Homo sapiens: one gene and its partners. The protein of the gene in region 4 interacts with the protein of the main gene of each other region in a pairwise test. Each region holds a gene or a part of one and is shown on either strand. Other genes may lie near its edges.

Region 1 (8,061 bases), on a different chromosome or scaffold from region 4:
CTGGACTCCACTGGCAGTGTGGATTCTCCTCTGGGTATCATCTTAATACTCAGTTTCATTTACAAGACTGGGAAACAATGATGGAAAAAAAGGGAGGAAGCCAGTTTGAAAGCACATGAAAAGACAGATACAAACAAGAGTAGAAGAAAACAGCTCTGCCTTGAGGGGAAAAAGCGCTTAGGTAGGCTCACGCCTGTAGTCTGAGTGCTATAGGAGGCCTAGGCAAGAGGATTGCTTGAGTCCAGTAACTGGATACCAGCCTGAGCAACAACATAGTGAAACCTTGCCTCTACATAAGGAAACAAAATTAGCTGAGCATGGTGGTGTGTGCGTGTAGTCCAGCTACTCGAGACTGAGATAGGAGGATTGCTTGAGCCAGGGAGGTAGGTAGAGGCTGCACCACTGCACTCCAGCCTGGGTGACAGAATGAGACTGTCTCAAAAAAAAAAAAGAGGCCCTTAACTCACTTACTATATTCCATCATCTCTCACCTGGCAGAATTTTTTCCCCCAGTCCTTCATTCTTGACGCCTTCCAAATAATTTTCTAACACTGTTGGCAGAGTGACACTATGAAAAGTTTCAGTGGTTTATTGCTCTTAACATAAAAGTAATTGTCTTTAACATTACCTACCAGCCTCTTATCTCCTATTTCACACTGCTCTCCCTGACCAAGCTCCAGCCACATAATTCCTTTCCTTTCCAAAGTTGTTACATTCCTCAGCCCCAACCTCCACCCTACTTCTATTTACACTTTAAAATCTTACACCTTAAAAATCTTACTCTTCTTTTAAAAGTCTCACCTCAAGTGCTATTTAACCTGGTCCTTCCAGACCAATCTACTAAATACTACCTCATTTCTACCACTTGTTAATTGCAATTACATTGGTTTGTGTGATTTCTTTTTCATCATAGGCACTCAATAAATATTGGTTCATTGAATTAAAGGAAGCAAAGTGGGAGTGGGGAAAAGTTGTTTAATCCAGAGACAGTAACATATATTGAGCCTCTGTCTCATACTAGGCATTGGCTTTGATATGCTCCTCACTTTCATTTTTTTAAAAAATATTTATTTATTAAAGAAAAGGTCTTGCCCTGTCACACAGGCTGGAGTGCAGTGACAGGACCATAGCTCACTCCAAGCTCTACCTCCCGGGTTCAAGTGATCTTTTGCCTCAGCCTCCTGAGCAGGTGGGACTACAGGATAATTTTTTGTAGAGGTGAGGTCTCCCTATGTCTCCCCCCACTGATCTCAATCTTCTAGCCTCAAGCAATCTTCCCGCCTTGGCTCCCCAAAGAGTTGGGATTAAAGGCGCGAGCCACTGCGCCCAAGGGTTCCCTATTTTCTTTTTCTCTGAGAGGAGTCTCGCTCTGTCACCCCGGCTGTAGTGCAGTGGTCCAATCTCGGCTCACTGCAACTTCCATCTCCCCGGTTTAAGCAATTCTCTGCCTCAGCCTCCCCACTAGCTGGAATTACAGGCGCCTGCCACCACACCCGGCTGAATTTTTCTATTTTTAGTAGAGATGGGGGTTTCACCATGTTGGCCAGGCTGGTCTCAAACTCCTGGCCTCAAGTGATCCGCCCACCTCAGCCTCCCAAAGTGCTGGGATTACAGGCGTGTGCCACTGTGCCTGGCCTTGGCCTTCCTTTTTTCATTCATTTAATTCTCATAGCAATCTGGCAACAATTACTTCTCAGACACAGAAGCTGAGAATCAGAGGTAACATAAAGACACAGATTAGGGGTACATTAGATATAAATTAAAATTTAAATATAAAGGCTAGGCTCCGTGGCTCACGCCTGTAATCCCGGCACTTTGGGAGGCCGAGGTGGGCTGACCGATTGAGGTCAGGAGTTCGAGACCAGCCTGGCTAACATATCGAAACTCAGTCACTACCAAAAATACAAAAACTACCTGGGCGTGGTGGTGCGTGCCTGCAATCCCAGCTAATCGAGAGGCTGAGTCAGGAGAATCGCTTGAACCCGGGAAGCAGAGGCTGCAGTGAGCCGAGATCGGCTACTGCACACCACTCTGGGCGACAGAGTCAAACTCATTAAAAAAAAAAAATTAATATAATAAAATTTCTCCTAAATCTAAATCCTTTTCTTCACTTTCAGGGTGGATTACTGGACAAATTAACATTTGTATGGCATTTTTACATCTCTATAGCAGTTCTACATTTTGATTTGAAATTTATATTTGCATAAACCTTACAAAAAGTACTCACTTTGGACCTCACAAAAGACTTAAAACCGAGACAGTTAAAAATGACCCAGTTCAAGTCAAGAGGACCTGAGAGCGCTCGGATATGGCCGTTCAGTGCCTGTGCAACGTCTTAAATCCTCTCTTCCTTCAGTTTCTGTCTGCATTGTTCCCAATGTCTGGCTTCTGATTACTCCTAGGTCCTAAGGACGCTGGGAAAAGGGGACGAATTCATTCTCAGCACCCTCGGTTTAGGATCTGTGTCCGTCTAAAGGAAATTAAGGGGTTTCATTCTTTTCCAAACTCAGCTCAATTACCTCTTCCTAAAATCTTTCCTTTAACACCCTTTTCTCCTGTTACCATTTCCCTCTAGCCCCCATATTCAGTTAGTTCTTTCTGACAGGACTAAGCACCTCTTCAAAACAGAAAACCCGGGCCGGGAGCAGCGGCGGGCGCCTGCAGTCCCAGTAGCACTTTGGTAAGCCGAGGTGGGAGGATCGTTTGAGCCTGGGCGGTTACAGTGAATAGTGATGGTGCCACTGCACTCCAGCCAGGGAGACAAAAGTGAAACCCTGTTCCAAAACACAAACCTGAAAACCTAATTTTTTAACTTTTTCTTTTGAGGTGGAGTTTCGCTCTGGTTGCCCAAGCTGGGGGTGCAATGGGGCGATCTCGGCTCACCGCAACCCCCGACTCCCGGGTTCAAGCGATTCTCCTGCCTCAGCCTCCCGAGTAGCTGGGATTACAGGTGTGCGCCACCACACCTGGCTAATTTTGTACTTTTAGTAGAGACGGGGTTTCTCCATTTTGGTCAGGCTGGTCTCGAACTCCCGACCTCAGGTGATCCGCCCGCCTCGGCTGCCCAAAGTGCTGGGATTACAGGCGTGAGCCACCGCGCCCGGCCTCTTTTTTTTTTTTCCCCATCTTTTGACACACTCAACCTCCTCAACTAAACCTAGAAAACCTCATTTCTTACTTGTCTGCTCACTCCAATATACCAGGCTGCAATCATATTCTTGGGCCTTACTCTTAAAATAAAAAAAAAAAAAGTCAAGAGGAGAAAATTCGAAGGCACATTCTTTTCTCCTTAAAGGAAAAATCAGGAGTGCCCAGGGAAGACAGAAACACAAAGACAGACAGAAAACAAATCCACTAAAACTGTACTGACCTCCTTGCCTTTTGCCTTCTCCATACTTGTAGAAGAAGCGGAGCCTCGCAACATGCTTCCAAAATGGCCCCTGCCCCAAGATTGCTATTTGCAAAGTCTCCTCCCACTTCCTGCCGCCCGAAGACCCTTTTTCTCTCCACCTCACCTCTTCTTTTCTTCTCCCCTTCTGTTCCCTCCCCCACAATTTGTAAATGCTAAAATTGCATTCTTTCTTATTCATGGGGTGACTTTTGTCTGGGTTGAATTACTAATACTATTCCTGGCCCTTTTCTGTTCACTTTAAATGTAATTATCCAAAGTATGGTTCCGGAGACATTGGGAGATTGAGCACTCCTTCAGAACGATTCTACGGGGAAAAAAAACAAAAAACAAAAAACAAAAAAACAGTGGCCAGAGACTTGAGCAGGATGTGTGAAGGGATTTAATAATGGAACTTGTGGCAACAGTAGACTTCAGAGACCAGACTGGCGGCTTGAAGAAAGCTATTTTCTCGTACCAAATACATTCCATTTCCTAAGTAAGTTACTCAACCAACTAAAACTCCAGGTTTCTCTGTACTAATACCGAGCATCTTTTCATCTGCCAACGAACTAATAATAGTAGCTTTTAAAGTCTATAGAGTATTTGTTATTTATTTTGTAGAGGGCAAGTGGGGGGGTCTGGCTATTTTGACCTGGCTGGTCTCGAACTCCTGCCCTCAAGTAATTCTCCAGCCTTGTCCTCCCAAAGTGTTGGGATTACAGGCGTGAGCCACCACTCCCCGCCCGAGTATTTTTTTATATCTCAAATTGTGAGTTTTAAATTCAGTCATTATTGTTCCCCATTTTATATATGACTAAAGTTGGTATAAATTTTTATTGGTAACTTTTTCAATAGCACAGTAAGTGAACCCCTAACCTACTGACTCCCAAAGAAGTTCAAGTTTTTCTCCTTAAAATAATTTGAAAAATCTTTCCTCAGATCAGTGCTCCCTGTCAGATTGTCAAGAGATGTGAAGTGAAGGAAGCAGTGGCTGTGCGACTGAAACCCTCCCTTGTCAGGGTCCAAAGTCTCTTTTGTTCTTTGGTTTACTTTGTTGTTTTTTTTTCCTACATCTCATTGCTTGTCCTAAAATGATAAATAAGAGACTGTCTTTATCCAAATGGTGTTAGTAATCTGCTCACAGGCTAGAAATCCACGGACAGAAAAAGTAAGTAAACGGAGCCCAGGAATAGAGAAGGAAGTGCAGGTTGTGGACTGGGCAACCCCCAAGGCGGCAAAGAGGAAACCAGGTGAGTTGAGGTCATCTGGGAGATATTAGGGCTTTGATTTAACAATTCTTTACCACAGCCTTTGGTAACCACCAGTAGGACTTTCTAATTAAGGTTTGTGTATAAAGTGTATAACTGAATCATCTTTCTTTTGTCAGTGTAATTGAACGTAACATTCAGAATAACTGGAGTTCTGGGCTGGGCATGGTGGCTCACGCCTGTAATCTCAGCACTTTGGGGGGCTGAGGTGGGCAGGTCACTTGAGTTCAGGAGTTTTGAGACCAGCCTGGCCAACAATGGCAGAACCCCTTCTCTACTAAAAATGCAAAAATTAGCCGGGCATGGTGCGTGCCTGTAATCCCAGCTACCAAGGAGGTTGAGGCAGGAGAATTGCTTGAGCTGGAGAGGCAGAGGTTGCAGTGAGTCAAGATCGTGCCATTGCACTCCAGCCTGGGTGACAGTGTGAGACTCCATCTCAAAATAAAACATAAAATAAAAATAAAACATAAAAACACAGACACCAAATCCAGGCCAGATTGATTCATTTTTAAATGTAAGGCTTTAGCAGCTAGCCAGACAGGATTTAAACCCAACCTCCCCTTCACTAGCTGTGTGACCTGGGCAATAACGTTAGGTCTCTTTGTTTTCTCATCCATGAAATGAGAGTCATGAAAATAATAGCCTTTACTTAGAGGGTTGTGGGCATGTCTGGAGAAAACAGTGTCTGGAGAAAACAGTGGCTGGCACAGCACATGTTGGGATCAGAAGAGCAGGGCGTGGTGGCTCATGCCAGTAATCCCAGCACTTTGGGAGGCAGGAGAATCGCTTGAGCTCATGAGTTCAAGACCAGCCTGGGCAATATAGTGAAACCCCATTTCTACCAAAAATACAAAAAATTACCAGGCGTGGTGGCGCAGGGGTGCCAGCTACTCGAGAGGCTGAGGTGGGAGGATCGCTTGAGTCCAAGAGGTGGAGGTTGCAGTGTGATCATGCCGCTGTACTCCAGTCTGGGTGACATAGTGAGACCTTGTTTCAAGAAAAAGACAAAAAAAAAAAAAAAAAAAGAGTTGGAGAGGAATGAATTTGAGAGATTTAGGGGTATTCTGGTTGGGTTTTCTTTTATTTTTCCTTTTCCTTTTTTTTTTTTTAAGAGGTCTCCCTATATTGCCCAGGCTGGTCCCAGGTGAAACTCCTGGTCTCACATGATCCTCCAGCTGTAGCCTCCCGAGTAGCTGGGACTAAAGGCCAGCACCCCTAAGCCCAGCTTTTTCTTTTCGCTTTCTTTTTTTATAAAAAGTTTTTTAATTGTGTAAAATGAACTGAATTAATGAGTCCTTTAGTTTACCCGGAGGCAGTGAGTCTTCCAAAGTCATTAATCTGCATCTGCAGAAAACAAACCAGCATTGATTCATATGTAACACTGTTTCCTAACAGAATGGAGAGAGGGGGCAGGAGGTGTGGCTGTGGGGGAGGGAGGGAACCCTTGTCTGTGTCTCTCTGCTGTGTATTCCAGAAGCGCTGAGTCAAAAGCTGGGTTTATTTAATATCTATATAGAGTTCCCCAATTTATAACAGTGCATGAAAATACCTCTTTCCCCATGTCCAAGAGTCTAGTATTTTAACAAGTACACTAGTACTTGACACACCTAATTTATAATAATTCTACCTTGTAGTATCTCCTATAGTGGATAATCATTGCCGTTTTAGTGGTTATTTTACTGTAGGAAAAGGTGAGTCAGTTAAAATTAAATTTAGGGAGTAAGGCAGATCATGAGGTTAATTAATAACTTTTGTTTAAAAAGGGAAAAGTTGGAGGTAGATGATAGATCTGGTTATCATCAAAAACAAGAAAACCCAAACCTATTTGCTTATAAACAATTTCCCTCCCTCCCTCATTTCCTCCCTTCCTTCATATCTTATTTTTATTTTTTATTTGAGACAGAGTCTCGCTCTGTAGTCCAGGCTGGAGTGCAGTGGCGCAATCTCAGCTCACTGCAACCTATGCCTCCTGGGTTTTTAAGCGATTCTCGTGCCTCAGCTTCCCAAATAGCTGGGATTACAGGCGCCAGCCACCACGCCCGGCTAATTTTTTTTTTTTTTTTTTAATTTTTTTTTTTGAGACAGAGTTTCGCTCTTGTTGCCCAGGCTGGAGTGCAATGGCGAGATATTGGCTCACCGCAACCTCCGCCTCCCGGGTTCAAGCGATTCTCCTGCTTCAGCTTCCCGAGTAGCTGGGCTTACAGGCATGTGCCACCACGCCCCCTAATTTTTTGTATTTTTAGTAGAGACGGGGTTTCACCTTTAGCCAGGATGGTCTCGATTTCCTGACCTCAAGTGACCCGCCCGCCTTGGCCTCCCAAAGTGCTGGGATTACAGGCGTGAGCCATCATGCCCAGCCCTCCTTCATATCTTTTTTTGTTTGTTTTTTTTTTTTTGAGACGGAGTGTCGCTCTGTCGCCCAGGCTGGAGTGCAGTGACGCGATCTGGGCTCACCGCAAGCTCCGCCTCCCGGGTTCACGCCATTCTCCTGCCTCAGCCTCCCTAGTAGCTGGGACTGCAGGCGCCCGCCACCACGCCTGGCTAATTTTTTGTATTTTTTAGTAGAAACGGGGTTTCACCGTGTTAGCCAGGATGGTCTCCATCTCCTGACCTCGCGATCCGCCCGCCTCGGGCTCCCAAAGTGCTGGGATTACAGGCGTGAGCCACCGCGCCCCGCCATATCTTAAGCACTGAAAATAAAAAGGCGAGTCTGGGCGCGGCTGCACGCCTGTAATCCCAGCACTTTGGGAGGCCGAGGCGGGCGGATCACTTGAGGTCAGGAGTTTGAGACCAGCCTGGCCAACATGGCAAAACCCCGTCTCAACTAAAAATACAAAAAACAGCCGGGCGTGGTGGCGCGTGCCTGTAATCCCAGCTACTTGGAAGGCGGAGGCAGGAGAATCGCTTGAACTCGGGAGGCAGAGGTTGCGGTGGGCCGAGATCGCGCCATTGGACTCCAGCCTGGGCGACAGAGTGAGACTCTGTCTCAAAAAAAAAAAAAAAAAGAAAAGGTGGCTTTGGTCCTTAATTACCACAAAGTAGGAAGAGTTCCAAAATGCCAGTAAACATAGTATCATTGACTCAAATACTTGTTTTTTTTAGACATCCTCTTTTAAAAAAAAAATAACATATTGGGGGTGGGTGGGTTGGTCTCCTTCCATTCCTCAGGCTGGTCTCAAAACTCCTGAACTCCAGGGATCAAAAGATCCTCCCGCTTTAGCCTTCTGAGCAGTTGCAGGTGTGCACCACCACATCCTGTTTGGACATTTACTTTAAAGAACTGGATTTACTAACCAGGGGGCAGATTTACCATGAAGCTAATTAAGTTTCAGGTCCTTTACTTGCACTGGCCCATTCCAAGTTGCTGTCAGGCCCCTGGCAAGCTTGCATTCGTAATTATAT
Region 2 (8,028 bases), on a different chromosome or scaffold from region 4:
AGTTCTTTTTTTCATTTCAATTTGGAAGTTTCTATTGTGAAAAGAAAATAAAAACCCAGGACCCTGATTCACTATGCCAAAAGGAAAATATTAAGCTGAAAGCTGAGTCATGCAATAAAATACCTTTCTTTTTTTTTTTGTTCCTAAGCAGATAGCTACAGATAAAAGGTTAAATATCTCCACAGGTAGATATTACACATTTTCCTTACCTTATGTAAAGTGCTGATTTACTGTGAGCCAGAGGAATACAGAATTGACTATTCCTGTTTCTGCTCCTTTTCCCTTGCATCATGTGGATTACTGTACCCTCCCTCTTCCCCTCTAGCCTGCTGTTTCCATTTAAATATTGAAGCCCTCAAAATTATCTTTGGATAAAGGCACAGACCACAGACTGTTTCTGTGATTCCATGCTCTTTTCTTCTGGGAATGTCTTCACCTTGGCAAAATAAACTTCTAAATCAATTGAGACATGTCTTACATACTTTTTAGTTTACACTATTGACCTATCTTCAAGCTCAGGAGTCCCCAGCCCCTAGGCCACGGACCTGGACCCGTCCATGGCCTGTTAGGAACTGGGTCACACAGCAGGAGGTGAGTGGCGGGCTAGCCAGTAAATCTTCATCTGTATATACAGCCACTCCCCATCACTTTCATTGCCGCCTGAGCTCCGCCTTCTGGAAGATCAGCAGTGGCATTAGATTCTCATAAGAGCACAAACCGTATTGTGAACTGCACATGTGAAGGATCTAGGTTGCATGCTCCTTATGAGAATCTAATGCCTGATGATCTGTCACTGCCTCCCATCACCCCAAGATGGGACCATCTAGCTTTACAAAAACAATCTCCGGGCTCCCAGTGATTCTACATTATGGTGAATTGTATAATTATTTCATTATCTATTACAATGTAATAATAATAGAAATAAAGTACATAATACATGTAATGCACTTCAATTGTCCTGAAACCATGCCATTCGCCCCCCAGTCTATGGAAAAATTGTCTTCCACGAAATCTGCCCCTGGTGCCAAAAAAGATTGGGGACTGCTACTCAAGCTTGCTGAGTCTTTCCTCAACTGTGTCCAGTCTACTGATAATCCCATCAAAGGCATTCTTCATTTGCTGGAGTGCAGTGGCACAATTTCGGCTCACTGCAACCTCCACCTCCCGGGTTCAAGCGATTCTCCTGCCTCAGCCTCCTGAGTAGCTGGGATTACAGGCACCCGCCACCACGCCCAGCTAATTTTTGTACTTTTAGTAGAGATGGGGTTTCTCCATGTTGGCCAGGCTGATCTTGAACTCCTGACCTCAGGTGATCTACCCACCTCAGCCTCCCAAAGTGTTGGGATTACAGGCGTGAGCCACTGTGCCTGGGCTCTGTTACAGTATTTTTGATTTCTAGCATTTCCCTAAATATTCTTCTCAGGGAGAGTTTACATTTTGCAGCTCTTTTAACTGTTATTCACTGTTATCCACTATTATTATAATAAAGCCTTGTTAGCATGGTGGTGAAGTGCAGAGGAGAGGAAGTGTTCTATAATATTATGATTAAATTTCAGTCTTTTGTGGGCCTGTGTCCCTGGGCTTTGATTTTCATAAGAGTTTTATTTTAGCGCCTTTCTCTCCCTTACATGAGACTAGAAACCTAAAGGGGGCTGAAATAGGAGAAACGCCTTTCCCTCAGCTGAGATAAGGCTCTGATAAAGTCTTTTCCACCACAGAATAGGCTTTTTTTTTAAAAAATGAAGAAGGCTCTGGGTGTATTTCACAAAAGTACAGTTCCCTTCCCACTGCAGGGGCCATGAGGCCCTTCACTGCAAGAATATGGTGGGTTTCTTGGAAGTAATGCCCACAAAAGTGTGGGGACCTCCCTGACTGCAGATCCTCAGGGGTTTCTCACTCTCATATTATTCCACACTCAGTCTCCAGCAATTCATCAAAATTACATTTAAGTGCTCTTACCTATTTATGTCTCTAGCAGTTTCTGTTCTATGAAAGAAGAAATAGGCTGTGACTCTCTGGATTTGCCTTCAGAATTTGGGGTAGTCAACTGTCCTATGCCTCAGTTCTTTGAAGAATCTAAGAAATGTTGTTGATTCTGTTTGTTCAGATTTTTTTCTGGTTGTAAGTACAGGAGCAATGACTTACAAGTTCTTACATGTTGGAACTGAAACTGGAAGTCTGGCTATGGGTTTTAACAGGGAAGCTAAAGAGCAGTGAAAAATAAAAAATAAAAAATTTAAAATGGGCTGGGTGTGGTGGCTCACACCTTTAATCTCAGCACTTTGGGAGTCCAAGGTGGGAGGATCGCTTAAGTCCAGGAGCTCAAGAGCAGCCTAGGCAACATAGCAAGACCCCCTCTCTATTTAAAAAAAAAAAAAAAAAAAAAAAAAAGCAGTGCACATTGCTTTTGTCTGCTTCTTTTCTGCTGAACATCACATCTGGGAATTAGGTTGCCCTGGAAAACCCAGCTGCTCCATAAATATTAGCTCTTTTCACTCCCAGGTACAGGAAATTTATGGGGCTCCCTGAACCTGACATCTCAGCCCAAAAATTTGTAATGTGCAATGCAAATTAGACTTTTGACCTCCTGAATCAAAATTCCTGGTAATGGCCATGCACAATGGCTCATGCCTGTGATTCCAGCACTTTGGGAGGCCAAGGTGGGAGGGTCACTTGAGTGCAGGAATTCAAGACTGGCCTGGGCAATGCAGTTATACCTTGTTTCTACAAAAAATCTTTAAAAATTGAAAAATATATATATTATTGGTAATGAAGTCTGAGGAACTGTAACTTAATGCTAGGAGAGAAAAGTTGTCTATGTCACTACCACCACCACCACCATCAAGAGGCAGTGCATGATACTATTAGAATCTATAGTTTACATTAACTGCCTAATGATTGTTAAGTGCTTGCTTAGACTAGAGTAACTAGTTTCTGAGCCCTGGGAGTACATTCTAAAGGGAGTTTGTACAGAAGAGTTGGGAGTACCCAGATTTCAGAGCCAGACAGTCCAAAGTCTGAATACAGACTTTGTCACTATTTGTGTAACTTTAGCAAAGGTACTTAACGTCTTTATAACCCAGTTTCTTCATCCTTAAAAGGGAGCTGGCATTAACTACTTTACAGGATTATTGTGTATACTGAGAAAACTATTTGATATCCTGCACAACATGTGTATATCAGATCTTTCTAGTTCTTTTAAAATTTCTGATCTATTCCTATTATGGAGTGGGCTGGAGAAAGCAAGAAAGAATAGATGAGAACTACATGGTTTTTAAAGGTCATAATTGCTAAGTCAGTGTCACTGTGCTCTTTGTGCTGTAGCCTCAGTGCTTTGTATATTCTGTGTTGCTTACCATAACCCTTTACTAAAAGGATGCCATTTTTGCATAGTTGCCACTGCAGGTTACTGACTTTCTCCTCCTTTTAGTCACATGTCACAGAGAGGCTAATTCCATTTCCAAGAGTGAGTCTCTTTGGTCTACGGATAATCTATCCCCTTGGTACTCTCTTGTTTAGGAAGAGGCATTGATCAAATTCCACTCAATGTGACATTAGGGGAAGGTTACAGATGGACTTCTGAGGAAAGTGTCCTCATTCATAAGACAAAGTCATCAGAAAAGATTGTCTTTTCTTCTTCCTCAGGAAGTTGCTTACCTCCTGGAATTGTTGTAGCCATCAAGCTATCAGCCTTAGGACGGAAGTTGATATTGTGAATGGCAGAAGAAAGAGACGGAAAAAAGCTGAGTCCTTCGCTGAATTAAACAACCATCAAGGCTGCCCTACGTCAGTACTTACAATCATTGGATAATTAATTTCCTTATTAAGTTAGTTTTAGTTGAATTCCTTGTTATATGAAAATGGAACAATCCTAGATGTGCTCAGGCACAAAACAGCTCTTCAGTGAGTAAGAATTCCTGACTTGTGTCCATCAGTGAGCATCAGTGAGCACCTACATCTGCAGTAGCAGAACTCATGTTTCCCAGGAAAGAAAAGCCAGAAATTCTCAACACGTGTCCTAATGATTGCTAGAGGTCTGACAACTGTTTGGCTTCTGCTCCAGATTAAAAAGTAAAGCTTTAGGCAGAAGCCAAACTCTGACTTATCTAGGAGGTCCAGAGGTACATTAAATACTTAAGATAATAGATAAACCTAGTTTCAATTCAGAGGATCATTGTGTGAAGGTGCACCCTTGTGAAATATCCAGATTATAAAGATATCAAAGGTTACCTGCTTTCAGTTCAGGGGACTGTGCTGATATTGAGAAAGACACATTTACAGTGTCGACAGTTAGAACAATATGATTAATTTTCCCAGGTGCACTAAACAACAAAGGTATAGAAAGTCGTAGATACTTGAGATTTATCCAGAGTTGGGGTTTCTCCAGGACAGTGGAGCCAGGCACTAGAGGATGAGGTAGAAGAGTAGTAAAAATAAGTACTGTGATGGGCATTGGGTTGGGAAGGAAGGAAAGGGTGGAATAGGCTGATAAACAGGGAAAAAAGGATAAGGGACAGGAGGTCTAACAATATTCAGGTTTAATTTCTTTATGATAAATACTTTGCTACAAGCTTTGAGGAACAGAAGATCTGATTGTAAAAACAGTTACAATGATCATGGATGCTTTTATTGATAACTAGCACTGGAGGAATATAGACATAGCATAGAAGTAATGCACATCAGCTCCAGATTCAAACCACAAAGGTGGGAATGTCACCTCCTCTGCTAACCAACTCAGTGAGGTTGGCTAAGCTACTTAACCAATGTGTGCCTCAGCTTCCTCATATGTAGAATGGAAACAATAGCAGCACCTACCTCATAAGTTTGTTTTGAGGATTAACTAAGTGAATACATTTAGAGCCCTTAGTAGAGTACCCTGGCACATAGAAATCACCCAATAAATCCAATAAATCTTAATATTAACACAAATTACTATTTTAAGTAGTAAACATTCAGGCTTTGCAGTCAGACAGACTGGGGTTTGAATCACACTTCCAGAGTCCAAGCTTCTTTCTCTATGCTTCCTGTCCCTCAACACTAGTTCTATGTTATTCATTAAAAAATAAAAATAAAAAAATAAAAAGACTCTGATGCATGGTATAAAGAAACAAGTGGGATGGGCGCAGTGGCTCACGCCTGTAATCCCAGCACTTTGGGTGGCCGAGGCGGGTGGATCACCTGAGGTCAGGAGTTCAAGAGCAGCCTGGCCAACATGGCAAAACCCTGTCTCCACTAAAAATACAAAAATTAGCCGGGCATAAATTAATGGTGCAAAAATCAGTGGTGTGTGCCTGTAATCCCAGCTACTAGCGGGGCTGAGGCAGGAGGATCGCTTGAACTTGGGAGACAGAAGTTGCAGTGAGCTGAGATCGTGCCACTGCACTCCAGCCTGGGTGACGAAGTGAGACTCCGTCTCAAAAAAAAAAAAAAAAAGAAACAAGTGGCCAAGTGGCAAATAAAATATTGTGTAAGTACAAAGAATGGAGGAATTACTTCCTACCAAGGGGCAAGGGATAAGGGCGAGGAGGTATCAGACTTCAAAAAGGCCCTGGCATTTGAACTGAGCCCAAATGATGTTTCCCATAGACAGAAAAAGGGTAAGAACATTGAAGATTGAAGGGACAGCATGTGGGAAAGGCATAAAAGTAGTAAAGCACACAATACAGTTGGGAAAACAACAGATTTTCCAGTGGGGCTTGACTGCAGGCAAAGTGGGGCAAGGCCTGGAATAGTGTGAGGCACTTGAGAACAAGAGCTTCTTTCTTCATTTCATTCTAGTCCTGGCCTTGACTTGGAAGAATGTTATGAGAGATGGAGATAGAAAGGCAGACTTGTATTAAAGGGTGCAAGGTTGTGAAAGCCTTGATAGAAAATCTGGTGGTATTTTATAGATGAGATCCCATTGAAGGTTGCTCTTTTGAAATTGGGGGCAGAGTTGAGAATTAGTGGCTGCTAAAAGTCCAGACTAGACAGATGAAAAATTCACTCTGATACTATCCCCACACAACAACATTTTAGGCCAAGTGACATCTGAAGTAGCCTCTATTATATAAAGTAGCCCATAATATTTATCAAAAAAGGGAGAAGGAACAAGAGGACTGAGTGAATGATGAAGTTTTTATTTCAACTACACCCCAGAAAAATAATTGAGGAAGGATTCTACCCGCTACAAGTCAGAACAAAGGCAATCATCATTTTGCTTGGATACACACACACACACACACACACACACACACACACACCAGTCACCCTGCTCTTCGGCTGAGATTAAAAAATTCTACAGGCATAAACTGTTTAAGTATCTGCTTTGGAGTACATTTGGGACTTAGAAGTATTTAATCAGGCCACAATTTGAAGTTTTCTAAATATAAATGCAATACCCACAACAGGAATTCTAGGCTAAGGGAGCTGTGATAAGAAAAAAAATGATGACAGGATAGATGGATAGATAGATTAGATAGATAGACACATAGATAGATATAGATAAATAGATACATAGATAATTTTAAAAATTATCTAAATTACAGGTACATGCCACAAAAACAGACTGCTTTTTTCACCCATAATACACTGTTGGGTCTGAATCCTTCATTTTAACTTGTTGATGTAGAATACACAGCAAAGGTAAGCTTTATGTATATTAATCTAGGTGTGGCTGCTAAAACTAGGGAAAATTACACTATTGTTCTGATATCAAATATTTGAAACCAACTACTTGGAGTTAGCATTGGACTCCACAGGTTTAAGGGCACAATCACCAACAATACTGCCCCCACTTTAGATCAGATACCAGCCCCAATTCTCAGGAAGCCACCCATGCTTCTGACTGACCACTTATAAATTCAGGAGTTCCTATGACATTATGAGGTTTCATAATTAACTGAAACAACTCGTAGAACTCAAGAAAAGTGCTATTCTTATTATTACAGTTTCATTTAAGGATATACACAGGACAAGGTCTGAAAGCATTCTGGACACAAAGCTTCCATACCCTCTCCTTATGGAGTCAGGGTACACCACTCTCCCTAGAGAACAATATGTTCACCAACCAAGAAGCTCCACTTATCCCTGAAGTTCAAAGTTTTCACTGGGGTTTTATTACATAGGCAAGATTGATTAAACCATTGGTTGTGATTGAACTTAATACCTAGCCCCACTACCTTCCCTGAAGGTTGAGCTGGCCCAAAGTTCCAACCCTTTAATCACATGGTTGGTCCTTCTGGTGACCAGTCCCCATCCTGAAGCTATCTAGGGGCCCACCATAAGTCACTTCATTAGCATAACAAAGATACTCCTGTCACACAGGAAATTCCAAGATTTTTTGAAGCTGTGTCAGCAACTAGGGATAAAGATCAGCTATATTCTCTATTATACCACACCATACTTGAAGTCTTCTCTGTTGACATACTCGAAAAAACACACAGAGACAAGAGACAAGACAGCTTGAGTAGAAAACCATAAGCTGAATGCTGGCCCCAGTACTTATATTATCAGAATTCTGGAGAGTAAAGAGAAGAAAATAATAGGAGAGGGTAGGAGACGAGGATGCAGTCCTAGGGACTAATCTCTACCTATGATTTTGCCCCACATACCTTGTATCTATCCTAGCTTTTAAGTCTAAATAGGAGGGCTTAAAGTAGTAGAACAACATAGTTTCAACTCTATAAACTTGGTATAAACATAAGGATAGGAGTGGGATTAGAAAAAGTCATTTCTTCCTAGCAACACTTTCTTACACTGACTTTGTATGTATTGTGATATATGAAGAAATCAGCATTTGATCTTTTTTATTTTGATTGAAATTTGAAATGAGTTATTTTTAAAATTTTTTAAAATTTTTAATTCACATGGATATGCAATATTTGTACATATTTATGGGGTATAAATTATATTTTGATATAAGCATAGAATGTGTAATGTAATTGAGATATACATCACCTTAAATATTTATCATTTTGTTGCACTGAGGACATTCCAAATCTATTCTTCTAATTATACTGAAATATATAATAACTATTGTTAACTATA
Region 3 (6,062 bases), on a different chromosome or scaffold from region 4:
TCTTGTCCCAGACACACAGTCCAGAGAACTTGAGGCATGTGAAAAGAGAAGGCCTGTCAGTTTCAGAAGATGGGTGGGTGGGGCAGACTGCACCTTGTTGCTTGCAGCTGCCTAAGAATCCCAGCCTGTCAGAACCCTGAGAGCCATAGAGATCGTATGATGTGGTCTAACCCTCTTGTTGTACAAGTGAAGAAACTGAGGCCGGTCCAGAGGTGAGGGACAAACCCGAGGTCACGTGGTAGTCCCAGGACTGGAAGCTGCTCTTTCCACTGCACTATAGTTGCTTCTCTGTTTCTTCATCCATTTATTCACTCATTCATGGACTTGCTACCTCCCTCAGGACCATGTGGCAGGGAGAGCATGGACTCTTTTAGGGCAAGTGGTCCTGGATTCCAGTCTCAGGTTGCCCTCTGTGTGACCTTTGGCAAGTGGTTTTACCACTCTGACCCTCTCTGGTTTTTAAATCTATACAGTGAGGGCAGGCACGGTGGCTCATGCCTATAATCCCAGAACTTTGGGAGGCCAAGGTGGGCGGATCACCTGAGGTCAGGAGTTCAAGACCAGCCTGGCCAACATGGTGAAACTCCGTCTGTACTAAAAATACAAAAAAATTAGCCAGGCATGGTGGCGGGTGCCTGTAATCCCAGCCACTCAGGAGATTGAGGCAGGAGAGAATCACTTGAACCTGGGAGGCAGAGGTTGAAATGAGCTGAGATCGTGCCACTGCACTCCAGCCTGGGTGACAGAGCAAGACTCTGTCTCAAAAAATAATAATAATAATAATAATAGTCAATAAATAAATCTATAAAATGGGAATAATAATAGTCGAATCCACCTACTTGGCTTTTCATGGGAATAACCTGTGGCAGTGCATGCTGGAGGGTGGCATGGAGCCTGGCACATAGTAAAAGGTACATACATGTCAGCCATTCCTATGAATACATATTACTGATTCTTAATCTCTGCCAGTCTCTGCCATGCACCGGGGGACATGAAGATAGCATAGAAAGGGTCCCTGCTCCCATCAAACTCTCAGGAGTGGACTTTTTGAAATACCTGGGAGAGAATTCTAGTGAAGCCCTGACAACATGAAGAACAAACCCCACACAACCCCAGAGCAGCCGGGCTTTTAATGAAGTTGTTGAATTTTCATCTACCAGATTCCCAGTGCCTCAGCTCTGGAAAGCAGAGAAGGTAGTTGTGGACGATGGTGTCATTGTTTACAAGCCCACTGTTAGGGGCAACAGCCTGAGAAATAGCAAACAGCCGGCAACTAACCGGGTCCAGCCCTGCCCGAGGTCTTGGAGCCCCGGATGGATGAGCAAATGAGCACCCGGCAAAGCACCCTCAAACCCTCGACCCAGGCTCCCCGCTCCAGCTACTGCTCTGAGAGTCAGACGCACAGAGCACAGGCTGCTCAGGGGTCACACGCACACAGGCCAGGACAGTGGCAAGGCAGCGGCACCAAGGCTCCGGCCTTCTCCACCCCAATCTGCATGACTTTGGGGAAGTCACTTCCTCTCTCTGAGGGCCTCTGGGGGCTTCCCCATCCATTTTCTTTAGGCCACCAGGACACAGTCTCTCCCCTACAGATTTCTGCTGGCCGGGAAAGGGAAGGACCCCCCCACCCCAGGGAAAGCATGTCAAGGGTGGTCTGAGAAGCACTGTACTTATTTGCCAGCCCCCAGAAGGGGTGATGGGCTTTCTTTGGGCGGAGAGCCAGGGAAAATGTGCCTTCTTCCTGGGAAGATCCAGCACTGAGGAGGGAGCTTGGTTTCTCCACTTCACAGGGTCTGGATCTCCCACTTTACTCCAAGATTCTTGTGGATTTGCTTTTAATTGAGCCCAAATTGTGTTACGCCACCAGAAACGGGGGTTTGAGGCCACAGGCCCCTGCAGCCGGGGTGGTCCCAAGGGGTGCGTGGGGCCAGGAGTCAGCCCTCCCTCTCCTGCCAGAGACACTGGGAAGACAGGCAGATGCAGGACATCTGGAAATGCGCAACTGGACACCCCAGAATCTGCAGAGTGCCCTGAGGCCCTTTGTTTTATGGGGAGGCTTCTGGCGGGTGTTTTCCTCACGCAAAGGGAAGTGAAGGGGCCCTGCCTTTCAGGACTTTTTCCTTGGAAGGTTCAACCCCCCCAGAGTGGCCTGGATTTCCTAAGCCCCTCCCAAAGTACTTCGTGGACCTCTGGGTACAGCGGGTCCCTGTGTTTGTGCTGTTAGATGGGTGGTGGTACTTAGGTGCTGGCTGTGTAGATGAATTTCATTTTTCTTTTCTTTTTTTTTTTTTTTTTTTTTTGAGATGGAGTCTTGCTCTGTGGCCCAGGCTGGAGTGCAGTGGTGGGATCTTGGCTCACTGTATCCTCCGCCTCCCGGGTTCAAGCAGTTCTTCTGTCTCAGCCTCCCGAGTAGCTGAGGTTACAGGAGCGCACCATCACACCCAGCTAATTTTTTATATTTTTAGTAGAGATGGGGTTTCACCATGTTGGACAGGCTGGTCTCGAACTGCTGACCTCAAGTGATCCACCTGCCTCGGCCTCCCAAAGTGCTGGGATTACGGGCTTGAGCCACTGTGCCCGTCCTTAGATGAATTTCTGTGTGTCTTCCTGAATGCTTACAGGCGTGTGTGCAAAGATATGGGAGTGGACGCGTGTGTGTCTGTGCCCAAGGAAAAATGAAAGTAAACCCATGTTCTCTCACTGACATTCTTTTCAGACAGAGCTCAGCCCCAGCTCTGCGCCCCGCCGCACGTCCCTCATAAGTCGATACGGGATGCAGCAGGTCGGGAGAGAGACTCTGCGGGTTTCAACTTCCCTGGCCTCACTTTAATTTGGCTGCCGTTCCCACGCTGCCTACCTCCACCCACCTCCACCCTGAGACCTGACACCCAGTGGCCCAGGGTACCTGGTGGCTCCCCCAACCGATGATGGGGATAGGTTCCGTGTCTTTCACTTCCTCTTAGTAACTCATTATTATTGCCTGATTCTCATGTGTTCTTTATCGCATTCCCAGACTTACTGACCACAAAACATTTAAAACATTTTACCAACAAGAACTTGTGGGGTTTATTGTCTGCTGAAAGGCAACTGCCAAAAAAGGAAAAAGAAAAAAAAAAAAGGAATGTCTCAAAGAACCATTAGGAAAAGGATCAAGATTTGTCTGGTGTGTGTGTTTGGTGTGTCTGATAGAAATGCAACATGAGGCACACATTTAATTTTAAGTTTTAAATGTCCTAGTAGCCTCCTTGAAGAAATGAAGAGAGACAAGTAAAAGTAAAATTAATTTTAATAATGTATTTTGCTTAACTCAGTATAGCCAAACTATTAATCATTTCGACATGTAATCAATATAAAAATTATTGAGATATTCTACCTGCTTTTTTTTTCATATTCAGCCTTCAGATAGGTTGTGTGTTTTCACCTGCAGACTGGTTGAATTTGGGCTAATGCCATTTTAAGTGCTCAGCAGCCATACGTGGCTCGTGGCTGTGATATTCGGGAGTACAGCTCAGCTCTGGAACCACCTATCAGAAAGAGAAGCCCAGCCGTAGCCCATTAGATAGAGTGAAATTTTTGTTTTATTTTATTAAGAGCAAAATATTGGCCAGGTGCAGTGGCTCACATCTGTAATCCCAACGCTTTAGGAGGCTGAGGCAGGAGGGATCACTTGAAGCCTGGAGTTTGAGACCAGCCTGGTCAACATTGCAAGACCCCGTCTCTACAAAAAATAACTTAAAAAGTTAGCGGGGCCGGTGGTGCTCACCTATCTATAGCCCCAGCTACCCAGGAGGCTGAGGCGGGAGGATCGCTTGATCCCAGGAGTTAGAAGCTGCAGTGAGTCGAGATTGTGTCACTGCACTTCAGCCTGGGGGACCAAGCCAGACCCTGTCTGCAAACAAAAACAAAAACAAAAAAACCAAAAAAGCAAAATATTGCCAACCTGACTTTTTGGATCCTCTTGGCAAAACACAGATCAGCGTCCCCAGAGGCAGCAGAGCTCTGAGTGAAGCAGTCGGGGGGATGCTCTGCCTGCCTTCCGCTCACCAGCCCTTCCCTGTCGTCCCCCGCAGGTCTGGTTCCAGAACGCCCGAGCCAAGTTCAGGCGCAACCTCTTACGGCAGGAAAACACGGGCGTGGACAAGTCGACAGACGCGGCGCTGCAGACAGGGACGCCATCGGGCCCGGCCTCGGAGCTCTCCAACGCCTCGCTCAGCCCCTCCAGCACGCCCACCACCCTGACAGACTTGACTAGCCCCACCCTGCCAACTGTGACGTCCGTCTTAACTTCTGTGCCTGGCAACCTGGAGGGCCATGAGCCTCACAGCCCCTCACAAACGACTCTTACCAACCTTTTCTAATGACTCGCAACCCCTCACCCCACAATTTCTTTAAAAAAGAAATTATCTTTAGTTGAATTCCAAGTGTATTTTAAAATAGAGGCTTTGAGCAACTAACTAACCACATTTTAGGATCTCGCCTGGAAACAGAGGTAAAAAAAAGAAGTGTGCGCCCGGCTAATGCAGCGGTGTGGACCGAGGAACAACTTGGAAGATCTACCTGCAACACAACATTTGTGTCACTGTACAGTTTTGTGGACTGAGCGAGGAAAAACAACAAATAATTTAAGTTGGCTAGAGCTTCTGTATTTTCAAAGACTGCCACGTGCCTTAGGAATACTGTTTTATCTCCATACTTTGGATGACTTGTTCATTTTTCTCTCCCTCTTTTTCTCTGTATATTTATGACCAGAGCAAAAATGTAAAAAACAAAAAAAACAACAAAAAAAGTTTGTTACTTTGAATAGTCCTAAAAAGAAAAAAAGAAAAAAAAAAAAGGAAAAATCAAACCCCCTCCAACGGTCGCTTTGTTGTTTTAGAATTTTAAGGTGGAAGTCTGTTCGAATATCAGAATTTGTAAAATCTAACCAGTAATAAAACCACTTATTGAAACTACTTGGGGCTGCTGCCATTTGGTTGGGTGTGAAATTGACAGGACCTAAGAGTTTTACTGAGGCCCAGAGATCAATTCTAGGTCTTCACATATTCATCAGATATTCCTGGGGCTCCTGTCTTGTGCCAGGCTTTGGACGGATTACAGAGATGCCGAGACAAAGATCCAATTCCTGCTCTCAAGGAATCAGAATGGTGACACGGGACAGACAAAAGATATCTTAACAGGGTGTGATATGTGCTCAAGTGGAGGATATGCAACATCCCATTCATTCATTCATTCATTATTCATTCATTCATTCTTTCAAATATTTAATGAGCACACCCTGCCAGATGCTTGTGATGCAGAGGTCAGAGGCCCTTTTCTGCTCCTGGCTGGGCTGGAAAGAAGGCATGTCAGGCGATGAGGGAGGCCTCCTGAAAAACCTGCAGCTTTTCCCTACGAGGAGTGAACGCAGTTAACAAAGGGCAGCTTAAGCTCCAGTTTTCCTAATGACACAAAATTTCAAGATCGCTAGAGAGGGCAAAAGCAAATGAATTCTGTTCCTTTCCTAAAGTTTCAGGGAACCTCAGAAACCCAGAGAAAAGACACACCCAGAGAGGAGGGAGGGTTGGAGCCAGGCAGAATGAAGTTGGAATTCCTACTGTTGAGCAGGGTGAGCTGAAGGAAGTCATTTCACTTCATTGGGCGTCAGTTTCCTCAGCTATGAGCTGAAGATAATGAATGGCCCTTGCATGGCAGTTGTAGTGGGGGCAAAAGGTAAGATGTGTTGAAGAGCCCAGCAGAAGGCCTGACACAGAGTAGGGCTCGATGCATTGTAGTGAATGACAGACAGGTGATGTGAGGACTCTGTGGGTGGAGAGCAGGAATGTGTGTATCCAGGCACCCTCTGGCATTGCTGAATGCACCAAGCAGGTGTGGTGTCTGTCCCCCAGACTTCTGACACCCCTCATTTCTCACTCTGAGCCCTGCTTCGGAGTACTCTGCTACCAGTTTCATTGGATGTCAGCAGTTACCAACCCAAATGCCCCTGCAATGGCCCACCAACTTGATCATCCAGATGGAAAATCATGGCCACCTGGAGGAGGAAATAGCCAGGCAAGAGTGGGCAG
Region 4 (8,028 bases):
CTTTTGTTTGTAGTTTCATTAAGATGTTTAATGTTAGTGTTATGAGTTTAAAAAGACCATTTTATTGTTTCTTGTTTAAGGCTATATCATCATTCATTCATTCATTCATTCATTCGTTTCTCGAATATTTATTGAGCCATTACTGTGAGCCAGGCCGTGAACTGGATACTGAGGACATAGTGTTGAATTATCTCTTGATATCTGTTATCAGTATTGGGAATTTGGGAGACAAAACATCTAGATTGTGAGTTTCTGAGGTTACTTCAACTTAAAAACATTCTGCACTTTTCCTGATGTTTGAAAATTTGGAGGGGTTGGAATCATTTAGCTTGAACTTCCAAATAACCATAATTTTTTCCGGCAGTTTAGATTACAGTGGGTTTTTATGTAACCTAAAGTAGTGAGTTTCTGTTAATTCATGAAATCATAGGACAGGCTTTTGTGAAAGTTACACTTCACACCGAGTACCTGTATAGCTACAGGGGGATATTTCTTTTTGACCAACCAGCATGCAAGTTGAAACTATTAATCCTCTCTAGGGTTATATTCATTTTGAAGCTTGGCGATGTGTTCTCAGATTTCACTAACGCTAACAGGAATATGAAGCCCTGAGTGTCAAAATGGAGATGATTTCTATTGAGCGAAATCTCAGTTTTTATTTTAAGTGTTTAGCACCTTTTCCAGGTATACATGTTAGTACATTATATAAATTGATGAAGTTTTAGAAAGCTTTTTAACTGCTAGTTACTGCTAGTAAGAACCGTTAATATTAATGGAACTTGAATGTATTGTATGTATCACGGTGAAAACTAACTTTGTTTCTTGAAAAATTGAGTCAGTTTAACATATAGTAATAGAATAATTGAAACTTAAAAGAGATACACATGTATGTGAACTTACATAAATATTCTATGTGATGAACTCCTTTTAGGCAGACTTAACTTTGAAAATGGGTTATTTTTAAAAATATGCCATAAGCATCTGTAAAAGTTACTTATTTTGAAGTTTTGACATTTGAAACCACAAACCTAAGATTATGATCTGATTATTTTTGATGCTGTATGTTGTAGTTTTGTTTCTTTTTACCTTATTACCATTATCATATTCACATAGTTTTATCACAAATAAAATACAGCTCTATAAGATTTGGGAATCTATTAGAATTTAGGAAATTATGTGATAAATATAGTATAGATTTCTTTCCCTCGGGTCCCAAAGCTTTTCGCTTGTCAGTCTTGTGGTTCTGTTAGAGGAGTTCAGCGATGTAGCTCTAGATTTTCTGTTGAATCTTTTAAACCTATAATCTCCATCCCATTTTGTCTTCTATAATCCTGTGATTAAGGGAGTGACGAGTTAAAAAGGTTTTCAAGTAAAGGCCAGTTTTGCTTTGTTGAAGTCTAGGAACCTAGTGTCATATTGGCTAGATAAGTAGTTGGGTTTTTTTGCATATCAGTACATGGGTACTTTTGAATGGGTTATTGCTGAGAATCAGATGATTGATTATATAGAACACTTGCATTTTCTTTCCTGCTCCAACCTGCCAATTATAAATAATTTGCTTTACTTTTTTGTAAATAGTGAAAGCTTGGTCAAAAAGATTGTATGGGCCAGGAGTGGTGGCTCAAGCCTGTAATCCCAGCACTTTGGGAGGCCTAGGCAGGTGGATTGCTTGAGCTCAGGAGTTCAAGACCAGCCTGGACAACATGGTGAAACCCTGTCTCTACAAAAAATAGAAAAATTAGCTGGGCATGGTTCAGGAGGCTGAGTTGGGAGGATTGCTTGAGCCTGGGAGGTGGAGGCTGCGGTAAGCCTAGATAGCGTCATTGCATTCCAGCCTGGGTGACAGAGTGAGATACTTTCTCAAAAAAAAGATGGCATGATAGTTCGATTAAACTGTAAACTTCCTCTGTTTCCATATTTAAAGACTGCATTCCTTAGAAGAATTAAAGTAATTGACTTCAGATGATTTAGTAATGAGATGTTAAAAACGAAGGTGTACCAGATGGCCCTGTAGGCCTTTAATTTTTTGAAATCACTAGCTGGAGGAGGACAGGGTTATGTGTTTAAGGATTCTAGCTCATGAATAGATATGTGACAGATGTCTCCTTTACAATGGCACATTTACATATTAGAGGAGAGAGATAAAAGAGAGAAACCAGAACGGAGGTTTGAAAATCTTATGAGAAATAGACTATGCTTTAGCCTTTTGGCCTCAGGGCCTCTTTACTCTCTTAACAATTATTGAGGACCCCAAGAGATTTAGGTTTATGTAGATTATATCTACTAATATTTGCTCTTTTAGAAATTAAATGACAATTTCAAATATATTTATTAATTTAAACTGTGTTGTAAATAGAATTTTTTATGAAGAATAAATATGTCCTAAAACCAAAGAAACTAGACCAGTGGCATTGTTTTATATTTTTGCAAATCACCTTGATTTCTGGCTTACTTGGAGAAGACAGCTGGATTTTTTGTCTGCCTTCAGTCTGTTATGATGTTTTGGTTGAGATATGTGAAGAGAATCCAGCTTCATGTAGATATATGGTTGGAAAAGGAAAGAGTGAGTATTCTTCTTTGGTATTACATCAAAATTCAACAAGTGGCAGTTTTTTGTTTTTTGTTTTTTAAGTTACTGACAATGTGAAAGCATATTGTATTCCAAAAATGTCTCTAGGACCTACAGGAAGTCTATGGAAGATACATTTAAAGAAGAGACTAACGGTTGGGAGACGTGATAGCTGTCTCCAGGTATTTAAGAAACTTGGATTTCAGTAAATAGGATTTAAAAACCTGTTAATTTTAATAAATAGGAGGGAGAATAGATCCATTCTCCTGCTTTAGAAGGCAGACCAACGGGTGAAAATTAGGAAGACATTGAGGTCAGTCTAATTTTTTACCAGAATGTAAGAACTGTATGACAACTAGACTTGGAACAGTGGAACAGTGGAGCAACAATGGAACTCGCAACAGCTAACAACAATGGAAAGAAGTAGTTAGTTTTGAGAATTTAAAGTGGACTACAGGGACATATTTTTTGGGGAGGTGGAGATAAATTCTGTAGATTCTTACGATGAGTGCTATTGGATTAGTGACTTAAGGCTTCATCCAATTTAAAAATGTAAACATTCTGTGATTTTTTAAAAATCCCTAAATATAGTTAAACTATACTTATATATATTCATTAACGTTTTTGAATGTTCTTGCAAGTCAGTAGTATGAAACTACTGTTGTTGTTGACTTTATTACTATTTTGCATTTTTATTGTGCTTTTCCTCTGAGGATTTTTCTGTCTTTTCTTGTGTCAGCAAGATCAGTCTTCATGAAATCTTGCTAAATTCCCTGTGAAATATAATAAGCTTAAGACATTTTAGAGAACCAAATGCTGTTTATGATACAGTTTAGTAGAGTTGTAATATATTTCAGCACAGAATTTTAGAATACTATGGGGGCTGATTTTCAATTTTGTAAGAGAAATTATGAGCATAGTTTATATAGTCTTTTATTTGTAATTGTTTACGTGATTTCAGAAGTAATATGCTTAAGTTATTCTAATGTTTTTAAAGCTAGAGAGTCTGAAAAGAGGGAAGAAGAAAGAAAAGTGTTTAAATTGATCTCTTTTGAATTTAAAATGCATATTAAGTATAACTAGAACATAAAATGAAGAATTTAAATTCTCATCTTATTCCTAGAATTATACCTATAATATGTATCATTACTTATAACAATTCATATTTTAATTTTGCATGGCACATAATCTCTTCTGTGAGTTGGATTTTTAGGTGGTGGGAATTTAAGCATAAATTCTCATAACTTTCTTGGGGTCAATTTAATATTAATAAGTGTAGTAAGTAATAATACCCAGCTTGAGACCTCATGTACTTGTTGCATTTGGATTTAAAGCTCATTTCCTATAGAAGAGCTGTAGAAATCAGTCATGTAGTTTCATAAACTCCTTCATGCTTGTTAATAATTTTCAAGAATCTTAAAATAAATTACAGGAATATTGTTATGAAGTAGTAGAAGCAGTATGGTATAGGGGAGAAAGTGATTGTAGTTGGGATCTGAGGATAGTCTTTACTTTGCTATTAACTAGCTGTGTGACCTTGGGCAAGTTGCTTATCTCTGCTTCAGTTCCATAAACTAAGAATTACAGAGCTGAACCGGATCTTGGAAGCAATCTAGTACAAACCTCTCATTTTACAGATGAGGAAGCAGATAATTTGCACAGGCTTTCACTGTAAGACAGTTGGGCCCAAAATTCAGTTTTCTGACTCTCAGGTTGGTTTTTTTTTTCCATTATACTTTACAGCCTCTTTTCATCTGTAAAATGAGAGCATTGGATTAGAGGCTCTCAAAGGTCTCTTCCAGCTCAAAAATATTGTCATTCCTGTGACATTAGTCGTAATATAATTTATTAGGGGAAAGTTTGTAGCTTTTATTTATTGGTGAAAGAAATGTTTCTTGAAGAGGCAGTATAACCTTTGCAAGGTTATATTTTGTTTTTTTAAGAGAATATCATCAGGCGAGGTGCTATGTCTCAGGCCTGTAATCCCAGCTTTGGGAGACCAAGGCAAGAGGATTGCTTGAGTCCAGGAGTTTGAGACTAGCCTGATCCTGTCTCAAAAAAAAAAAAAAGTTAGCTGGGTATGGTGGCATATGTCGGTAGTCCTAGCTACTGGGGAGGCTGAGGTGGGAGGATCCCACCTTGATCCCAGCAGTTCAAGACTGCAGTTGATGCAGTGAGCTATGATCATGCCACTGCACTCCAGCCTGGGCAACACAGTGACACCCTGTCTCAAAAAAGAAAAAAGAAAACATCTTCATTAATACCAAAGGGTATTTAAGTTTATGAGCATGGTAAGTAGTGTGATAGGTAGTCTTGTTTTTTGTAAAACACTTATTAATATATTAATAATATAAATTGCGTAAATAACAGTGTGATACCCGGAAGTGAAGTAAGTAGGTGATTGTTCCTCAGAAAATATTGCTGGAGTTTATTTTATCTGGGACCCCTGTGTCTGCCCCTAGTTAAGTGCCTGTGTTGTTTAGTGTCTCACAGGATTGTCTGTTTCCATAGCATCTGCATCATGCTACTTTTATTATAGTTTTATTTATATTGTCTACTAGACAGAAAGGTCTTGAATTCAGAGACTATATTTTGTTCATTTTCGTATTTTCAGTGCACAGGAGGACATCCTCTACAGAGTTGGCACTCAACTAAAAGTTTTGTCAAAGGACTGTTTCACATACATCATCTCTCTATATATCATGGTATGCACATATTTCAGACCCAGGAAGATGCTTATTTTAGTAATTCTTAAGTGAACTATATTTTAGAGGGTGATATGGATAACAGTAACAGTAATAGCTAAAGTTTATTGTGTTCGCACATGTTAATTCTTATATCTCATAACTCTGAGTTACATACAGTTGTTATTCCCATCTTCAGATGAGAAAACTGAAGCACAGAGAAGTAAAGTGACTTACCAGTGTGACCTAGAGTAGTACATGATGGGGATTTGAACCAAGTTGGTGTATTTTAATCACTAGGATATATTGCCTAAAATATGAAAATTTGGTTTTTAGTATTTTAGTAGTTTTTCCTAAGCAGATTTTAACTTACTAATCAGACTTCCAGGCTTATTCATTTTACTTCTAAACTTTTGTTAACTTTTTTTTGCATGAGTTTTTATACACGTGTGAAGATAAGATTTAAAAAAATACAAAAACCCCAACCAAACAACCCAATTTAGAAAGCTGTACCAGCTGTGCAAATCCTACACTTCATTTTTTTAAGATAAGTTTTGTCCATTCATGGAAAATGTTAGAGATACATCAATGAAAAATTTTATTTCCATGTTAGATAATCTAATTTGTAATTCCATTTATCTTGATATTTTGGCCTCATAAACCCACTGGAGCCATAACAAGTAAATACTAGAATTTGAACAAAAAACTTCCCACTGTCAGTATCGGAGCAGTCTATTTATTGTGGAGGCTTTATAACCTGATGGACAAGGCTTTAAACTAAATTATAATGCTTTAGTGGCAGATCTTTGACTCTGTTAATAGTATTCAGTATGGGCAAGGGGAAGAGGATGTGCAGTCTAGCTAATCTGTAAAAAAGTATTTTAAAAAAATACTTAGTTTTAATTCTTTTATTGCTAACAACAACAACAACAACAACAATAACAAAACCTTTGGTAGCATGTATTATATAGCAAACCTAATTGAGAGGCAGGATTTGAATGGATTGATAGGAATTTATCAGTCATGGAGTGGAAAGATATGCAGAGCAGAGCAGATCCAGGTGGTAGGTTGTCAAACTTGAATTAAATTTTTCCAATGTGGCTTCATCATTAGGTCTGAAATTTAATGAATTTCAAGAAGGCAATTTAACCTGTATTTAAATAAAAGTGATTATATTCTACATAGATTCATTAGCCAAATATAAGTATTTTGGGGGGATGACTTAAAATATTTTTTCCTCTTCATCTATGTGGATTGTTAAGAATTGGTTATACTCATAAATTTGTGCTTTTCCTTGAAAACTAATTAGCTGGAGTAAATAAACTACTAGGTTTAAATTCTTGCTGTTAATATGATAAGTTGTGTGACTTCATGATTCCCCACTGGACACTTAGGTAAGTGCTTCCTATCTGAGGATGAATGTAGTTCCTCTGGTGAAGGTCAGAGGGGTTTGTGTGAGGCTAATCATACTCATCCTGTCTCCTAAGACCAGAGACATGTTTTACTTTTTTCCTTTTTTGATACTGTATATTTGCCTCATAAAAAATATAAAATTTCCCTTTTCCTTGCCGATTTCTTTTAAACATCTGTGTAAATATGTAGTTTAGTTCAACTTTGTATACTACTCTGTTACTTATTTCATTTACTTAAAGATACTTATTTCATTTACTTAAAGATACACATGGCTGGGCGCGGTGGCTCACGCCTGTAATCCCAGCACTTTGGGAGGCTGAGGCGGGCGGATCACGAGGTCAGGAGATCGAGACCATCCTGGCTAACACGGTGAAACCCTGTCTCTACTAAAAATACAAAAAAATTAGCTGGGCGTGGTGGTGGGCGCCTGTAGTCCCAGCTACTCGGGAGGCTGAGGCGGGAGAATGGTGTGAACCTGGGAGGCAGAGCTTGCAGTGAGCTGAGATGGCGCCACTGCACTCCAGCCTGGGCGACAGAGCAAGACTCCGTCTCAAAAAAAAAAAAAAAAAAAAAAGATACACATATTTATTAATGCTGGACACTATTCCCGGCATTTGTAAATAGTAATTCATTTGCTTCTCCTAACAATCACATGAAGTCCTGTTATTATCCCGACTTTATAGATGAGGAAATTGAGGCATAGAGAAGTTAAGTAATGTATCCAAGGGCCAGGCACAGTGGCTCATGCCTGTAATCCCGGCATTTAGGGAGGCTGAGGTGGGCAGATGGCTTGAGCGCAGGAGTTCGAGACCAGCCTGGACAACATGGTGAAACCCTGTCTCTACAAAAATATACAAAAATTAGCCGGGCATTGTGGTGCACGCCTGTAGTTGCAGCTAGTTGGGAGGCTGAGGTGGATCGCCTGAGCCCAGGAGGTTGAGGCTGCAGTGAGCCGTGATTACGCCACTACACTCCAGCCAGGGCAACAGAGTGAGGCCTTGTCTAAAAAAAAAAAAGGAATGTACCCAGGCACACATAGAGAATATTTAGCAGAGCCAGGATTCAGACTGGGCTGAGTACATGCTCTTAACAGTTACACTATTCTGTCAATGTTATTTCCTTGAATGGATGCACTATAATTGGTTAACTACTCTTCTTTAGGTAGGATGTTAGTCATGAATCCTTTGGTTACACGTAATAACAACACGACTTTGTTAAGTTAAAAAATGAGTGTATTGGTTCACATACTGGGTATTGTATGTGGAGGGTGATGGAATGGCTTTGGAAACAGCTAGATCCAAGGTTGCAAGTAATGTCATTGGGTTTCTTTGTCTCCTTTCTGGGTTTTTCTAGCCTCTTGCT

The links.
Region 1: the proteins of TLK1 (region 4) and DPPA4 interact in binary tests that used the Homo sapiens proteins (3 or more experiments, as listed by UniProt).
Region 2: the proteins of TLK1 (region 4) and GPRASP3 interact in binary tests that used the Homo sapiens proteins (3 or more experiments, as listed by UniProt).
Region 3: the proteins of TLK1 (region 4) and LHX2 interact in binary tests that used the Homo sapiens proteins (3 or more experiments, as listed by UniProt).

Annotation. Positions count from the first base shown.
Region 1 is NC_000003.12:109,334,094-109,342,154, forward strand, and holds the start of DPPA4 (developmental pluripotency-associated protein 4), read right to left. Parts: upstream 3,454-8,061; 5' UTR 3,425-3,453; coding exon 3,371-3,424; intron 2,615-3,370; exon of another isoform or gene 2,228-2,614; intron 1-2,227. UniProt on the Homo sapiens protein: May be involved in the maintenance of active epigenetic status of target genes. May inhibit differentiation of embryonic cells into a primitive ectoderm lineage.
Region 2 is NC_000023.11:102,722,933-102,730,960, reverse strand, and holds part of GPRASP3 (G protein-coupled receptor associated sorting protein 3), read right to left. Parts: exon of another isoform or gene 6,100-8,028; intron 1-6,099. UniProt on the Homo sapiens protein: Survival and differentiation promoting protein that plays a role in the regulation of neurosynaptogenesis. Induces phosphatase PP2A activity which results in APP dephosphorylation and inhibits BACE1-mediated processing of APP.
Region 3 is NC_000009.12:124,028,350-124,034,411, forward strand, and holds the end of LHX2 (LIM/homeobox protein Lhx2), read left to right. Parts: intron 1-4,070; coding exon 4,071-4,358; 3' UTR 4,359-4,952; downstream 4,953-6,062. UniProt on the Homo sapiens protein: Acts as a transcriptional activator. Stimulates the promoter of the alpha-glycoprotein gene. Transcriptional regulatory protein involved in the control of cell differentiation in developing lymphoid and neural cell types.
Region 4 is NC_000002.12:171,150,683-171,158,710, reverse strand, and holds part of TLK1 (serine/threonine-protein kinase tousled-like 1), read left to right. Parts: intron 1-8,028. UniProt on the Homo sapiens protein: Rapidly and transiently inhibited by phosphorylation following the generation of DNA double-stranded breaks during S-phase. This is cell cycle checkpoint and ATM-pathway dependent and appears to regulate processes involved in chromatin assembly.